Homo sapiens: one gene and its partner. The protein of the gene in region 1 purifies or fractionates together with the protein of each later gene. This does not show direct contact. Each region holds a gene or a part of one and is shown on either strand. Other genes may lie near its edges.

The links.
Region 2: the proteins of NCAPD3 (region 1) and SMC4 purify together in Homo sapiens (co-immunoprecipitation; 3 studies listed by BioGRID and IntAct, with this or other methods). This does not show direct contact.

Annotation. Positions count from the first base shown.
Region 1 is NC_000011.10:134,154,035-134,157,967, forward strand, and holds part of NCAPD3 (condensin-2 complex subunit D3), read right to left. Parts: coding exon 3,894-3,933; intron 3,062-3,893; coding exon 2,984-3,061; intron 1-2,983.
Region 2 is NC_000003.12:160,409,650-160,413,249, reverse strand, and holds part of SMC4 (structural maintenance of chromosomes protein 4), read right to left. Parts: intron 1,331-3,600; coding exon 1,166-1,330; intron 925-1,165; coding exon 797-924; intron 1-796. UniProt on the Homo sapiens protein: Central component of the condensin complex, a complex required for conversion of interphase chromatin into mitotic-like condense chromosomes.

The DNA of each region.
Region 1 (3,933 bases):
CTGGCTCAGTGTCTCACCAGCTGTGTGAGCTGCTCTGAGACCCTCAGGTTTCTTCATCTCTTAAGTGGGTATAAAAACATAGCTACCTCATTGGGGGGCTGCCAGGACTACATGAGGTTATCCACGTTGAGTGCTTAGCATCGTGCTGGCTGCAAGGGCAGTGCTCAAGAGATGTTAGCAGCCACTGTCATTTATTAGCAGTATCATCCCTGCATCACTGGAGTTATGTTTCATCAAGAAGCTGGTAAATTTACTGCCCTGCTTCAAGACACCTCAATCGCTGTGTTCCTAGGAGAGCCTGAAGTCCACCCTCAGTCTCAGCTGGTCCCAAGCTGCCTTTACAGACTCACCTGTTAGGCTCAGGTGCACGCGTGCACAAACACGTCCACCCTCCTGCGTCCTCTTCCTCAGCAGGCCCTGTCTGCACATTATGCTTCTCTGCACCCCCCCCCCCACCGCCCCATCTGCCTACACATGCCACCCTGTCTTGGAGGCCCGGGTGGTGCAGCCTCACCCCTCCTGGGTGGTGCAGCCTCGCCCCTCCTGGGTGGTGCAGCCTCGCCCCTCCTGGGTGGTGCAGCCTCGCCCCTCCTGGGTGGTGCTGTACCCAGTGCATAAGCTGCCACCAGCACACTCCCGGGAACAGCACGGGCTGGGCAGCTGCTTGCTGGTACCACTGAACCTGCTGCCCTTCTGCAAGCACATGCGAGGAGGCAGCTTCAGAGCGCTCCCCGTTCTCCACTTGGTGTCTTGAGTATGGACTGTGTCTTCCCATTTACAGTTCAAAGCTCATCAGCGCACTGCAGCTGTGTACCCGATGGCTACTTGAGTGTCACTAATAGACGATGGTAGAGAATTCCTCATCACTGCTAGATCTGCTTATTCTGTTTCGGTGAAGTCTCTCCTTGTGCTGTCACATGAAATTCCCTTCCTGACACACACACTGCTCTTCCTGTTTGGAAGCCCATATGCACTCCAGGAAATTAGTCTCCCATCTTTACAGAAGCCCGGGTGCGGGGGCTCTGACGTCCCCCATGCACTGTGCGTAGAATCGAAGGCAGCAGCGTCTGTGCCACCCGAATGGTAACAGTAACAGGGACTTGCTAAAACCCCCACAGATTTTCAGTTAAAATCCTCGCTCTGAAAATTGACTAATTTTCATTTCCATTTAGCAAAGCCACTGTGAATTGGTGCTGAACTGGGTGGCATCTTTCCTGCCAGCTTTGAAGAGCTGAGACACTTCCTGACAGTCTCCCCCACCTAAACTAAAAGTTGCCAAAAAGAATCTGGACGTATAAACCACAGAGAAAACAGAACTGAGTGCTTTTAAACTATCTAACAGTTCTCCCAGGAAGGGGAGACCTCCAGGCATTTCTTCCTGGTTCAGTATAAAGAGAGACGGACAGAGACTGCATCAGCAGGAATATTATGTCCAAGAGCCTGGAGCAAGAACAAGTACTCTACCAACTCAATGACACCGGGCGCCTGATTTCCAGCACAAAGCGTGGCTCCACACAGGCAGATGAGGGCGGCATGAACCCTCCACGCCAGGCTGCCCTGTGGAGAAACACGAGCTGCTAGGAAACAACCCAACACTGACATCAGGGACTCAGGATGAGCACAACGAAAATGAGATGCGTTCTCCCCGTTTCTTCAGCATATGGCACCTCACTGCCAAAATAGAAGCTCTTGGCACTCCTGAGCCAGGAACATCGAACACACAGCAAGCTCTAACACACAGAACATCGCACCTGTCCACGACGCAGGATCCCAAATTACCCACTGCCTTTAATGACAAATGCCGTCATGATTCGGTTGTCGTCTGAGGGTGGGGGTGGGATAAACTCCCTTCAAAGGGGGACCTGGATGAAAATTACCTCTAACCTGTTAACTATTCTAAGAGATCACAGCATCAGTGTGACAGAACCAAACAAGCAAGTAGCTAGAATACAGCAGGTGCTCCACACACATGAGCTGACTGAAGCAGTGACTAAACGAACGGCAGGACACCTTGCTGCTCTGTTACCAGGAAGAGCACCTTAGCACGCTCTCATCTTCCCCTGCAGTCAGGACTAGGAGACAGGCTGGAGAAGGGGCACAAGAGTTGGGACCAGAAGGCCTGGGCTCAGCGCCCAGCTCTGCCCTCCCAGAAGTCTCCGGGAGGAGATCTCTGACACCTCCCAGGTTCCAGGCACTGTGGTCTGTGGAAACAGTGAGGAGTGGAATGGCCAGGGACGAGCGGGGCTGGATGCAGCTTGCTGAGGGCACTGTGCACAGCCGGGCGCAGAGCGAGGGGCACACAGGGACACGGCGGCAGGGCCTAGCCACTACTCCACAGATTTAGGACAGGAAGCATTTCTTCTTCCTGTAAGAGTTTTCTCAAAATAATGGTTTTTATGAGGTTTGACACAATATGAAGCTATCACACAAGATAATAGGAAAAGAATACTCAACTCTCCTAACTCACCTCTGTTTTGAAATCAAAGGAAAAGCACAAACAGTAGGAAAAAACATGGAGGGGAATGAGACACAGGCTCCGAGCAGGGGTCCCCGGGTCTCTGGTCTTGGCAGTTGCAGAGCGTGCATGGTACCTGCTGGTGCTGACGTCTGCCCGCCCTGGGAGCAGGCCCACCCAGCAGCGCCCAGTGCACCCGGACAGCCCAGAGACACGGAGGGCCGCCTCCAGAAGGCACCACTGGGTCAGTCACCCAACCTACCTGTGCCTCAACGGCATTGTCTGCTCCGCGGGCCACTGTGGTGTTTGACTGACTGAATGTAACGACACTGGAACAACATACTCGGTCAGTGCTCATGGATCAAGCGACCGTGGTCACTGTGAAATACTCCACCTCAGCAATGCACTCATGGTTCTGACCATCAGAACTATCCTGCACCGGAAGGAGTTTTACTGCGACTCTAGCAAACACATCACGAATGCAGGAGAGACTGAGGAGAAGCCCACGTGTTCCGATCAGTTACTCACTCTCGGGGGTGCTGATGGCCCGCTTGGTCACGTGCTCAATCTCGCCATTCGACTCTTGCTCCAAACTGTATGAAGACACTAGAACAGAAAAGGTGCTGCTATCCAGAAATACCCCCAAACAATAACGAAGAGCAAAACAACCACATGAGAAAACATATCTGCAAGACGTAAAGTCAAAATCACTAGTGTTTACAATTTTCTTATAAAGAGGCAATTCAGGAAGAAATACAAATAAATGATAAACATGAGAAAAAATGTCCATTCTCATTAGGATTCAAAAAAATAAAAGAGTCTAACTTGGCATAAGTGATAGAGGACAGTTTGACACTATCCAAAGTTTTTAAATATCCATGGCCTTTGACTGCTGGGAATTAATCCCAAGGATTACATACATACAAGGCTATATGTACAAGGATGTTTACTGTGATAGTATTTGTATGGAAAAATTGAAAATCAACATTTCAAAGAACAGGATAGTAATAAATCAGTTATTTCCACAGCCACAATGCTATAAAGCCACTGAAAGCAAAGGTTGGAAAGAAAAGTTCATGGAAGCTGTCTACTACATCTACTACATCTGACTTAAGAATGCAGGGAAACAGGTCATAAAACAATGCACGCACAGATCACAATTCCATAAACAAAACAAAACACGTGTGTGTAAGAGGAACAGAATAGCTGGAGGAAGGAATGCCTCACTGCTATGGGTGAGTTTCATATTTCACTCTATTTTCCAAATCTCCTAGAATAAATATGCATTGTTTTACTACCCATGATCCTAAAAGCCCAATTAACGTTATTTGTTTTAAAGATAAGAAAACACACCGCTTTGAAAGGAATAAGAAGTAGCTTGTTCTGTGTTTTCATCTGTAAATGCTCTACTGTGTCTGGCACCAAACATAAGGCTTACCCTGACTGCACGTTTTTTCTGGGCTTCCAGAATTTAAAGT
Region 2 (3,600 bases), on another chromosome or scaffold:
CACTTTAGGAGGCTGAGGCAGGCAGACTGCCTGAACTCAGAAGTTTGAGACCAGCTTGGGCAACATGGCGAAACCCCATCTCTACCAAAAAAAGAAAAAAGAAAAAATAAAAACAAAAAAATCCCAGCAACAATAATAATAATAATAATTAGCCAGGTGTGTTGGTGTGTGCCCTGTAGTCCCAGCTACTCATGAAGTGGAGGTGGGAGGATCAACTGAGTCCGGAAGGTTGAGATTGCAGTGAGCCGTGATCACACACTGCACTCCACCCTGGGTGAAACAGCCCATCTCAAAAAACAGTTCATCATAAGCTGAAAAAAATCAGATCTGCTATTACACGAATTTTAAAAAGTGCACACGTAAAAGGACTGAGTACAGTAATAAATACCTGTGAACCTACCTCCCAACTTAAAGCAGGATACTAAAAAGTCAACTTCAATGAATTAATATGCCTAATTTAATAAATTCAACCCTGGTGATCAACGGGATGACAGGTGTCACAGCCAGATAGTCCTCACATTGGATAAGTTCACCACATAATTCCTTTTTTTGTAGAGATGGGGTCTTGCTATGTTGCCCAGGCTGGTCTTGAACTCCCAGCCTCAAGTGATCCTCCTGCCTTAGCCTCCCAAAGTGCTGGAATTACAGGCATGAGCTAACACATTCAGTCACACAAAACAATATTTAGAGATTTTTTTTCACTTCAGTCTTCATGTTTCTCTAGGAAAAGAGAAGGGCTTTGACTTAATGGTTAAAAACTAATATAAAAATTGGTAATATCAATCAAGGCACTTACATATAATATTGACAAACATGATTCTTTTTTCTAAATATTTCATTTTCCAAGGTAAGAAATTCGATAGCTATGTTTTTCTCTCCTTCTAAGGCATCCTTTTCCTTTTCCACCATCTTTACCCTGTTTAACTACAGAAATTAAAAGTTTAAAGACTGAATACACACTTCATATGTACAATATGAACTTAAAATATGCAAACATTAGATAAAAACAGTTAATAAGGAGAATGTTCATCTTAAATGTTAAGATATAAATTTCAATATAACACTTCTTCATTAAGTATTATAACATGAATATCTGACTTACTAAAATTTGTTAGATCATAAATGAAACATTCTGATTTACAATGAAAGTCTACAGATGATTCACCTTCTCTCCTCTGTGTTCATTTAATATTTCAACTCTCCGACACAAGACTTTAATAGGTTCATTTAGCCGTCCACAACCAATTATATCTTCTAAATATTCAAGCATACCCTCATCGTGTTCAGTCTGGCCTTTTGGTTTCATCATAGCAATTTGTTCAACTTCACCCTTTAAAAAAAAGTTATATTTCATACTCACTGTGTATGTTTAGCTAAATCAATCTTAAGTGAGAATTGGGAGCAGTTAAATAATAAAGCCAAGAGTAATAAACATCTAAATAATGTACAGTTAGTAGTGCAATGATTTAATAAGGTATAAATAAAAATGTTATTTTCACTGGTATTCCTAAGAGTTTTAATTTTACACAGGGAGATATGAAACATGAATTTATATTCCCTTAGATAAATCCTTATAAAAGTGTAATATACACCCACTTACACACACTCATTTCCCCAACTAGAATGTTCAATATAAATAAATAAAACTTGTTTCTTTAAGTAAAATTTAGGAAAGCTTTCACTTAATCTGCAATCTGATTATAGTGGAAACATTATCAATTGTTAATAACACAATTGAAGCTCCTGTTCTAAAACAAAGAATTTTCAAAAACACTTGCATGGTTAAACTGTGTTAGGAACCCTGTCCCAAAGTAGTATTACCAACTTTCTCTACAAACATGGTTTTTAGGAGTTCCTTAACAAGTAATGGGTTTCAAAGGTAGTCAAAAACTTACATGTTCAGTTTTCTAAAAACAAGAGCCTTTGACAGAAAAGGATATTACCTATTTCTCATGGTAATAACAGAAATCAAACAGACCACCTTGACTAGAGAAAACTAATGGCACTGGTACATAAGACATCAGAAAACTTTCAGTTTGTAATCACTAATATAACAACTTTGAACTGTAATTAAAATCTTAGATTAACTTTACATATTTGCATTTATGCAGTTTAATTATGAAGAGTAAAGAGAAAAAAAATCCATAATAAGTAACCATCAAGGCTGACTGCTAGGCAGTCATTTAGTTTGATGGTGGAGAGAAAATTGTGTCTGAGTATGTTCAGGCCAAATGCTGCTACGTTATAGGAGTAGCTTGTTTGTACTCTAGACTATTACAATGGAAGAATAGGTACAGGCAAATGAAAAAAGATATACCTCTTATTTTCAACAAAATAGCAAAGACGAAAAAAGTCAACAAAAAGAATTACACATTAAAAATAGTATATTGTTTTCTTAATTCAAATATCTTAGTGATTCCTATTTCCTAAGTGAATACAGGTGAACCTTAAAAATGTGGGGTAAAACTTACTAATGAGAGCATCATAATTCACCAAAAGCCTCAACATAATTACAAAAAGTAAACAATTCAATAACAGTGGACAAAACAGCTTATTTGAAAATCTACTCATTAAGAAATAATTTTATTTGCATAAATCACTTTTCGATACTTCTGACAGTCTATAAGCACAATGATTATCAAAGTAAAACTGTTACCCCAAAAGTTATTTTCCATAACATTCATTATATTATGTATGAATCGGTATATAAGTGAAAATATGTAGATATTTATATAAAGTATTTTATTCTGCTTTCAACTGTTAGTTCTCTCTAAATGTTTGCAGCAAGAGTTTAAGTTTTAGACAGGATTGAAGCCTGGAAAAATGCCCAAACCTTTGGATTACACAGGATGAACGTTAAGTCACTGAGGAAGCCAAGAGTCTTATTCAAGTTTGTATCTACGTAGGGTTTATCAACAGTGGCACTACTGACATTTTGGGCTGGATATTCTTTGTTGTGGAGAGCTATGCTGGGCATTATAAGATGCTTTAATAGCATTTCTGACCTTCACCCACTAGACACCAGTAGCATCCCCACTTCTACCAGCTATAACAACCGAAACTGTCTTCAGACGTTACTGAATGTCCTATGGGAAAAGGGGCAGAATTACTGTCAGCTGAGAACTACTGATCTAGAGGCTGCAGTTTGTTTGTTCACTCATTTATTATTTTTTTGAGACAGGGTCTTGTTCTGTCACCTAAGCTGGAGTACAGTGGTGTGGTCTCAGCTCACTGCAGCCTTGACCTTTCAGACTCAAGCGATCCGCCCACCTCAGTGTCCCAAGTAGCCGGGACTACAGATGCACACCACCACACCCAGCTAATCTTTAAAAAAAAATTTTTTTTGTACACATGGTGGTCCCTCTATGTTGCCCAGGCTGGTCTCGAACTCCTGGGCTCAAGCGATCCTTTTGCCTCAGCCTCCCAAAATGCTGGGATTAAGGGCATGACCCACCATGCCTAGTCTAGAAGTTGTAGTTTAAATCCTGTGGGTTAGTGTTTATCATCCAAATAAAAAACAATATCTGACAATTAATATTCTACCCAATTCAAGGAGAATATCTGAACACTTATTTTAAGAAAATGAAAAACCATCCCAAA